Linked DNA regions of Homo sapiens: region 2 is reported to be linked to region 1. Evidence: microRNA targets listed by miRTarBase, many of them from high-throughput screens and not tested one by one. Region 1 holds a microRNA gene; the other region holds the end of a gene's coding sequence.

Evidence for each region. Region 1 holds the annotated microRNA hsa-miR-4698 (UCAAAAUGUAGAGGAAGACCCCA, at 2,326-2,348, shown strand). A microRNA usually pairs through its seed, bases 2 to 8, with sites in the 3' UTR of a target mRNA and lowers its output. Matches are read on the target gene's strand: a 7mer-m8 pairs with bases 2 to 8, a 7mer-A1 pairs with bases 2 to 7 and ends in A, and an 8mer does both.
Region 2: the mRNA of E2F8 is a reported target of hsa-miR-4698. Seed matches in the 3' UTR shown: 7mer-m8 at 954-960.

Annotation. Positions count from the first base shown.
Region 1 is chr12:47,185,535-47,190,710 of GRCh38, forward strand. It overlaps MIR4698 (microRNA 4698), which reads left to right and starts at 2,278; the gene lies at 2,278-2,357. The region is part of intron 2 of PCED1B (PC-esterase domain containing 1B); the gene reads left to right.
Region 2 is chr11:19,220,225-19,225,224 of GRCh38, reverse strand. It overlaps E2F8 (E2F transcription factor 8), which reads left to right. Exons shown (of 13, transcript NM_024680.4): 12 at 1-4; 13 at 385-1,162. The coding sequence ends at 567. The region is part of intron 1 of CSRP3-AS1 (CSRP3 and E2F8 antisense RNA 1); the gene reads right to left. Among named protein-coding and RNA genes, the nearest start is that of E2F8, 18 kb to the left of the region's middle.

The sequences.
Region 1 (5,176 bases):
TCCCAGCACTTTGGAAGGCTGACGGGGGTGGATCACTTAAGGCCAGCAGTTCGAGACCAGCCTGGCCAACATGTTGAAACCCCATCTCTACTGAAAATACAAAGATTAGCTGGGCTTGGTGGCAGGCACCTGTAATCCCAACTATGCAGGAGGCTGAGGCAGCAGAACTGCTTGAACCTGGGAGGTGGAGGTTGCAGTGAGCTGAAATCGTGGTACTACTACTCCAGCTTGGGCAACAGCAGAGCTAGACTCAGTCTCAAAAAAAAAAAAAGACTGTATATTAGACTGACAAAAGACAGATTAACAAGAGAAAAACAAACAAGTTTATTGAAATATGCATTGCACATACACATAGGAGTATTCAGTAATAAGTAATTCAAAGGAGTGGTTAGAACTTGAACTTAGTCTGGTGCAGTGGCTCACACCTGTAATCCCAGCACTTTGGGAGGCCAAGGTGGGCGGATCACGAGGTCAAGAGTTTGAGACCAGCCTGACCAACATGGTGAAACCCCATCTCTACTAAAAATAACAAAATTAGCCAGATGTGGTGGCACGCCCCTGTAATCCCAGCTACTCAGGAGACTGAGGCAGGAGAACTGCTTGAACCCAGGGGGCAGGGGTTGCAGTGAGCCAAGATCGCGCCCCTGCACTCCAGCCTGGGTGACAGAGTGAGACTCCGTCTAAAAAAAAAGAAAAAAAAAAAGAACTTGAACTTACATAGAATTGAGCAAAGAACAATAATTTTGTAGAGAAGTGGCAAGACAAAGGAAAATGACTTTGAGCTTCTAGGGGCAGCAAATTGTGGGAAGGCAAATATATGGGGAAACTTATGGTAGATGAGGGCTAGTTAATACGTTTTGTTTTTGTAGATTCCTCTGGATGACATCTTGTCTCCAGTGATAAGGTGTTGTCCCTTTATGTTATCCCTTTACTGGTAGGGGGGTAGAGGGGGGCACTTTCACAAGGGGAGCTTATGTTCTGTTTTCAGGCAGATAGGAGGCGGACAGAGATCTCATCCTGGGTCTGCTTTTTCTCAGTTGCCTTCAAGTCAAAATAATCCATATGCCAGAGTGGCATATTGTGGGGTGGCATAATCCAAACCCCTTCATTGGCAAGCATCAGAAGCCAGGAAGAGACAAGAAAAGGTTTTTTCCCCTACAGCTTTCAGAAGGAGCATGGCCCTGCTGACACCTTATTTCAGTCTGAGGGCCTTCAGAATTGTGAGATACTACATTTCTGTTGTAATCTACCCAGTTTGTGATACTTCGTGATGGCAGCCCAAGGAAATTAACACAGCACAAAATCTTGTCTTTACTTAGGATATCTCCAGCTGATTTCTTTTTATATCCTATTGGCCAGAACAAGGTCAAATGCCCAAACCAAGAACAACCAATTGATAAAGGGAAGGAGATTTCCATGACTGGTTAGGCCTATCCTGGAGTCGGGGACCACTCTCCTTGGAAGCAAAGATCTCTCCTTACCACCTGAACACACTGAAAGAAGGGAAAATGGCTCTTGGGGAGGTAGTGGGTAGTGCCTATCACACTTGAAGGTGGACCACTGTGCTGCTCTGTGGACTTTAGAAATGCTGCCCTACTTAACAGTGTTTGAGATTCATCTCAAAACAGATCTTTACCTTCTCCAGAAGCACTCAGGAGTTTAGGTGAAAGATCCAGGTGGATAGCTCCAGGGTAAGAAGTTAGAAATGCTGACACTATGTGAGAGATAGTGTTCATAGGGAGAGACCATGGGATCTTACCTAAAACCAAGAAATGGGTGGTAAATGTAGTGAAAAGGAAGCACCAGGAAATTGGAAATCTCAGGGAGGAGAAAAGGCAGGTGAAATGATCTGGTACTGATGAAAATCCCCCATCTCTACATCAAGGGGATTATTAACTCAGTTTCAAAAATAGAGAACAAGAGAGAAAAAGAGAAACAGGGATGCTGTTTTAACTATAGGCAGCAGTATATAGTAAGACATATTTTTAATCTTTTATCAGTGAAAGTGTAAACAGTTAAATCCAGCACTAAATAATAAATGTGTCAATATTTTAAAATATATTTTTTCATAGCTAAAATTAGAACTAAACATGCTAATGAACTCAGCACCAAGGGCTGGAGGTGATGGAGAGAACATTTCATCTCCCAGGCAACTCCCAACTCTGCAAGTTCTAGAATTCCTAAACATTAAATTTTCTTCATTGAAGACATATTTGGGAACTATAGCTTCATCATAAGGCAGCCAAGTCTTGTGATATATGGGTTAAAGGAAAGTTATGCTTCTCCTGGGGTCTTCCTCTACATTTCCACCTAGACGGGCCTGGGTCAAAATGTAGAGGAAGACCCCAGAAGGAGCAAAACTTTCACCTGCGCCTCTTCCACCTGGGTCTGTCCTTTATCCTACCAGCTCCAAGAACAGGATTGTAATTGGTCACCTGATCTACCTGCATCTTCCTGACTGCAACAAGTTCTTTGCCCTATAGCTGCTTTATTTCCACAGTTTGTCTTACCTGGAAGCACCTCTTCCTTCTTGGAGTCCCTTCTGTTCCCCAGACATACCTCTGTCATGGCACCATAGCATTTTGTGGCTTTTAAAAATTACATGTCTTATCTCCCCTTACTAAGGACTTTGGGGACAGTGATCTTGCCTTAGTTGTCTTTGGGTTCCCAGCATCTAACACCATTGGGGTCTCTTAAATGTTGGATGAATAAATAAATTATTAAAGGCTAATCTCAGGGGGGAATAGAATATGTCATAAATTCCTCAGCTGGAACTCATAGGGATCAATGATGTCCCACACAAAAGCCCTATAGGGACAAGAATTCAGGAAGGGTGTTAGCTGCAAATCTTCCTGGCCTATGGAGAAGCATGGAATATACTGTGAGCCATATATGTCCCTGAAGCTAATCTAATCTATCTCAATGAAATTATATGCTTAGGTATTGTCATCTCAGTTTCTAATGTGTAACTTTTGCTTTCCTTGGAAATTGAAAGGATTTGAGCCATTTCTTAGGTAGTTTCAGGACGATACTGCTTCTCAGAGTTAAGGACTTCCTTTTTTCAATGTGTACCTGAACATCCAGAAGTTAAAAACAAGAGTAGCAGAGTCTTGCAGATGCAAACATAGTACAGAAGTTCTCATCCATCGCCCAAATTGAAACGTGCAATGTAAGCTGTAGCCATCCAGTTCCACTGCAGTGCTGGAGCAGAGGAGCAAGGGAGTTGGGATGAATGTGAAGAACTCAGAGGACCATTGGGAGCATATTCATTTCACTCATTCTCCGTAAAAAACAGGCATGTTGCTGGTAACCTGGACTTTTTCCAACCCTGGCTACACAGTTGCTGGATTTAGGTGCCAGACTCCTGTTGCTTCTTATTGCAAAATGCCCCCACATGGCATTTTGCCCCATTTTCATTTCTGCTTCTGATTAGGTCACTGTGAACTTTCTCTCCATGTTTACTCAAAGTACCAGAAATATGTAGGGACAGCCTCCACTTATCTCGAGATTTCCTGCTGTTCATGATTCAGCTCACTTTGCTGTTCTTTTTCATTTCCTCTATCTTACATTTTGATTGTTTTTTATCTTCTTTTTCTTCAGCTTTATTGCTTGTTTCATTGGTTCTTAGCCCAGTGTCTGAAAGTGACCCTGAGAAGTTGTCTAAGCAGAAAAGCATGCATTGTGTTTTTAGATTGTTCAAGACAGGGCCGCCATTACCCCATTGGATGCCTTTGTGCAAAGTGGAAAAATGTGTCCTTTTCTCTGAGGAGATGCAGCCCTACACTAGGGTGCATGGCTTGGTTAGCAGAAGGCAGACTGATTTCAAAATCCAGTCTATTGTGCATTCTTGTGCCGTGAATGGAGAGGTGCAGCCCTGTTTAGAGAAGAGCCTGTAATCTTGCTTAAATAAGTCACTACAGCAACTATTATCTCACAGTGAAAATGTTCCTCTTTAAAGGCCGCTAAATAAATGAATGACCTTGGACATACATTTATTTCCTCACTTTTCAGTAGTTTACAAGATCCCTGAACACCATTCAAGGCTTATATTAGTGGCTTTCTGCTACCGCTAACATCAAATCCAAAACACCATGGACTTACTTGCAAGGTCTTATTTGCACTTTCAGCATAGCACCATGGACTTATTAGCACACTTTAGTGTTATATTACCATCTCACACTTGTCTTCATTTCAGCAAACAATTAATAAACATGGACTAGGAGCCAAACTCTTGAAGCACAACTTTCGTTTATCACCAGCTTCGCATTTTCACCTCATCTAACCCTACTAACAAAATGCATATCCTTGAAACTTCCAAACAGAAGACTCTGGGGATGTTTGGCAAAACCTCAGCATAACTTCTGCTGCTCCAGGCTTGGGATCCACAGAAGAGCTGCCTCTTGGGTCAGCTCTTCCAGCCCTGCTCGGCTCCTCCCTTGGCCACTCCCAGTCCCACAGACCCTCCTCTATGCACTGTGCTCAGACACCTGCTTGAAGTGCAGAAACTACTTCAGTATCACTTGAGGGAATCTCTAGGTATAAATTCTACACAGAAGAAAAATGTTAATACTCTATTTGCATAGTGTTTTGTTATTTAGGAAATGCTTTCACATGCATTAGTTCGTGTAATCCTGAGTTGGAATAATCAGCCAAAAAGCAAAAATGCATACAATTCAGTTGTCTCTCAGTCTATCCCACCCCGTTCTTCCCATGGTGCTGGTTGGTTCATAAATGGGAGCAAGTGAAAGCCTGCCCCATTGTGGCCCCAGTTCTGGGCTTCAGTTTCCAAAATAGATACAGACCTCACCCAAGTTCCATCTGTTCTAACCCACTTCCTCCTTGTCCTGGTCTCCAACCTTTGGCACCCATGCATTCACTTTGGTCGCCTCTTCCAGGTCTTTCTTCCTCCAGCTCCCTGCAGGTTAAGGATGAAGTGGTTTCTCTCAATTCCCTTTGTACGAGAAACACAGGGTTCTTTATGCCTACACCAGTTTCAGTGGGAAACCCTCTTTATAGCAGCTATGCAAATCCTGCATCTGGGATACCTGTGACTCATTTACACAGAATCTTGATCCTTTCAAACAACAATAGTAACACTAACTCATGCTTACTGGTTTCTGCGTGGCAGGCATGGCACTCTGTGCTCTCTGCATGTTATCTCATACTGTTGCAGATT
Region 2 (5,000 bases), not on the chromosome of region 1:
ACAGGTGAGAGGCTTTCTACTTAATTTAATTTTTCCTGGAATTACTAAGCCCCAAGTATCTGTGTCATAAGAGATTGGCTTTTGCTTTTCCTCTTTGGAGAGGGAAAGGATGGGAAAGTCAGGAGATTGAAGGCCTATGTTTCTTCCAGAACCCAGGAAGAGTGTCCAAGGCATCCATATTGTTGGGTTATCATGAGATTTTTGTCTCTCCCCTAACAAAAATAATTGAGAATGTAAAACTCACCAAAGCTTCCCTCGCCAATTTCAAGATACGCCAGTTTCCCAATGTGCAATACATTCATCCAGCCCAATCTTCCAAGTCTGGTAAGACTATGTACCTGTGTGTGGTTGACTTCTTTTGTCCATTCTTCTCTTTCCAATCAGCCTGTTCCTGTGACACCCAAAGGGTCACAATTAGTGGCCGAAAGTTTCTTCCGTACCCCAGGTGGACCCACCAAGCCAACCAGCTCATCCTGCATGGATTTTGAGGGTGCTAATAAAACCTCCTTAGGAACTCTCTTTGTCCCACAGCGAAAACTGGAAGTCTCAACAGAGGATGTCCATTAATCAACAGATGTTGGCTTAGTTTAATTTTCTAAAGAGTTGTTTAATAGAGAAAATGTACACAGACTGATTTGGAGAACACATTCTCTGAAAATACTGTAAATACGTTGGGGATTTGTTCAATGTGAAATCAGATAGTTGTTTTCATACATATATATATATACACACACACACACACACACACACACACATATATTTGTATAAAGCTAAGTTTAGCTTTCAATCCTACAAAATAAAAGTAAAATGTTGAACTCTAAGATATATTAACTTCTAGGGGGAAAAATCCATTATTTTAGCTATGCCTATACTATTATGCAAAGTAACTGTATTAAAGTTTACTTCCCTCTAAGCAAATATGCTTGACATGCCTAACACAGCATTCCCTTAAACATTTTGCACAAAGAAAATGCTGTGTGATGTATAATGTTGTATTTTTAAATAGGGGTATAGCTATATTTTTTGTAATTTCTTTAATCTGTTGTTGCAGTGTATCTTTTTGTAAAGTTTGCAACAATCCTCAATCAAGTCTATGGAAAAATTATTTATAAAATGTATTTTTAATCATAAGTTGTTCAAATTAAAACTTTTCTAAAATATAGTTAGCATTTTCATTTCGCCGGTTAGGGCACTGTTGGGAGAAAATTAAAATTTACCTAATCACAGAGGCAAATTCTTAGTAAAGAGTATCCATGCTGGGTTCCATTAGATATGCAAAGTTTATAGAATGTTTCTACATTCTGTCCCCCATTTTGACCCTTGAGATTGCTCCACTTTTGCAGAAGTAAAATTGGCTTTGGAGAGGTTGTTGCTTGGCCAAGAACACCTAGCTAAGTCCCATGTGCTTCCTACCACACTCCACGAGATTAGAAATGAAAGGTAGGCGCCTAGGGGCCCTGGTGTGACCAGCATCTGTCCCACGCTTCCTGCTCTACTCAGAGGTGGGTCTGTACCAGCTCTCTTAACATACTTCTTGGATGGCCCAGCTCCAGGGACAGGAAAACGGCAGTAAGGATTCTAATGTCCTCCACACCTGGAGAACCCCCAGGAGCTCCAAGAGAAGGGACAAGTTCCAGTGTGTTAAGTGTGCATCTCTTTGACCCGTTTGTTATGGGAAGAACTGCACCTTGAGAATTGACAAGTGCTTTCCCTGGTTAGGGTCTTAAAGGAGCATCATAGTATCTATTTCCTACATGTTTACTATATGTAGACAGGGTTATACGTTTTAAATGTATCATATCTGTGAGCTACAACTGAGGCTCACAGGGATTAAAGCAACAAGTCCATGGTCACACTGCTAGTGTATGCAAGTCTCAGCTCATGTCTATTGGACCTCATTATCCATTGCCCATTTACTTCTAGAGACATGCCTAGCAGCTCTAGTAGGAATCAAGCACATTGATTCAGGGTAATCTGAGCATTAATAAAGTCAGCCCTTTCAAATACACATGTTTTGTTTGCACAACCAAGTACAGCTAGAAGAGGGCAGATTTGCACCTTGACCTAGAAACCCCTCTTCCTCCACCACTAGAGAACCAATATGAACTATTTCCTCCAAAGTACCTTTGTTTTTATCCTTCTTAGAGAACAGGTGAATGGTCTCTGATTTAAGAAATGGCCCCTGCCTTCAAGGTGCTTATAGTTGAGAAAGATAGTATGTACACATGAATAAATAAAGCATTTCCATGCAATAAAGAGAAAAGATAAGTTGCCCAGTGGTAGATAAAGACAAAATATATAGTTCTGTAGAGGCTACTAGATTTAATTGGTTACACGGAACTATGAGAGAAACACCAAGACAGACAGCTGCTGTGTCTCTGAGGAGGTTCTTACGTCTCCCTCCCACTTCTCCTCTGTGGTTGAGCTAGAGAGATTGGAAGCCAAGGTTTTGTTTTGTTCCCCTCATCAATTCTCCACATAAAGAATTACCTTCCTGGGGAAATTAGACGCATAGGAAGAAGGGAGGTGTTAGATTTCCAGGCAGCTCTGGACACTGTCCCACCCAGTACTGCTTCTCTGACAGGTTTGTGAGGTTGCCCCTTGATCCCCACCTCCTGGTGTTTACACCCTTGTGTTCTCCCCTCCCCTTGAGTGTGGCTGGGACCTGTAACTTACTTCTAACCAATAGGATACAGTAAAGGTGACGGGGCGTGTGACTGTGTGTGTGGTTATGTGGTCACATGTCATAAGACTGTGGTGCCCATCTTGCTGTAGTCTCTCTCCCTTGCTGGCTTTTAGGAATCAAAGCAGCCATGTCGGTGGGCCCAAAGTGGCAAGGGCCTGTGGGCAGCCTTTCAGCAAAAGGCAGGCCGTAGCCAACAACCAGCAAAAAACAAATCAGTCCTGCATATGGCCACAAATTCTGCAAACAACCTGAATGAGCTCAGAGTGGCTCTTTCCCCAGTCAAGCCTCAGATGAGACCACAGCTCCCAGTTCCACTTTGATCGCAGCCTTATAAGACCCTACAGAGGACCCAAACTGAGCCATGTATGGATTCCTGACACACAGAAACTATGAGACAATAAACATGTATTTTAAGATATAAGTTTGTGCTAATACTGTTATACAGCAATAGATAACTATTATAGCCACATAAACCCCCATTGTTCACAAAAGTCTTCCAGGTTTGTCCTATTATTGTTCATTGGTTTCACAGGCATTCATAGAAGGAAACATCGCTAAGACGTGGTAATTCCAACGGCTTTAATGGGAGAAGCACTCTCCATTTGTTTTCAAAGCTGGAAGCAACTTTAAAGATACTAGGTAGTAGCACAGTAGTGGACAAAGTTATCTGGCCAGCATGCAATGGGAAAAGTTTCTTTTCCCAAACTGCCTCCTTATTTCCTCTAAGGAATGACATTTTCCATGTTGGATGGAGCCCAGTGGACTGTAAATGTAACATCCAGCCTGGGCCAGCCCCCCGGGATTGGATGTTCCATCTCATCCTAGCAGTGTTGTTCTTGCTGTCTGTCCCTGCTGCAACTGTTGCTGAGGCTCCTGCTTCCCAGCCTCTGAAGTGGCCATGGCACCAGCCCATCTTCAAACCAGATTTTCAGCCATCCGCTGAGTCTGGGCCTTTGCTATCCTTCCAAGAGTTTCTTTTGCTTAATGTTGCCAGTCATTTCTGTGGCTGGTAGCCAAAGGGCTCTTACCAGATCACAGAAGGAAACCCAGAGCAAAGGCTTCCTAGTTCTCAGACTAGTTGTTCCCTGTTCCCTGGGCCTGGCAAAAGTCAGCCAAAGAATGAATAGAAAAGGCCTTCAGAAATGCTTATCTCGCCAGGAAATGCAAGCAACTCACCTATGCTCAAGTGGATGTAAAGTACAATTTCAGATACCAGAAAGGGAAGTAGTTGAACTAATAGATTCAAGAAACCCAGGAAACTCAAGCAATAGAATTTGATGAAAAAAAAATTTGTTAATCGACTTTAAAGCAAGTTCTCTCAGTCTTGTCCTTCCCAAGTGATTAGTGTTTCTGAAGATAAAGGATAAAGAGATTTTCAGAACTTAAAGCAGATAAGCTGCCTGAGCAATCCTACTAATTATATAAAAGAATGTGAGTTGACTGCAGATTCTTTACAGTACTTATCAGTAGTAGTTTTCATATCTTGAGGGCTTAAAATAAGAGATAAGCTCAAAGGAAATGTGTTATTATTTTAGGTTGACAAAAGGTATCAATTTCTTAGTCAACTTTTTAGGAAGTAGTTTTACATTTTAGTCTCCCATTTGAGTGAACACAGGCCAGTGACTTGCTCAATCAAATCAGCGGCTAAATGAGGACTTGTTATGATTGTCAACATTTTGTAGAAAAATGTAGGTAAGGAATATATTATCGTGTCCTCCAGCAGTCAAGTAATCAAGTGCATTTTTAAAAGGCCCTGTATATACTGAATTCTTTTTCAAGTATTTACTAGTTTTTACCATATGCTCAGCACTGTGTCATGCAAAACAATGCCTATATTATCCTATTTTGTTTCATAAAAATATCCTCTATGTGTGAATCTTCTAGAAGTTCATCGTGAATAAGAACAATTTTGTTACTATGAATTAAAATCTTTCTAAAATGATAATATAGCTCCCCATTTCCTAAATAGAGCACTGTACTTTGACTATAATTTAAACTTTTCTTCACATTTCAGAAATTCATGAGCACTGTTGCTTTGTTAAATTCAAATTCAACAAACACAGTTTAAGCCACCTATGATACCGTAATGCCTTCAGGGGCTAATAAATGTATAGGTCCACATCTTTTTCAAATTAATGGCTCCAGAATATTTTCCTTTTCAAGTTCTTTTTTTTTTTTTGTGGTTGTCTGTCTCCAACTTTGATATCAGCTTCTACTTGTCTTGCCCCTCTATCCTACCTTATGTATTATTTATATCTCAGATAGACATGTATATGTATATATGTTTTTATATGACTTTAAGTACATATATCTA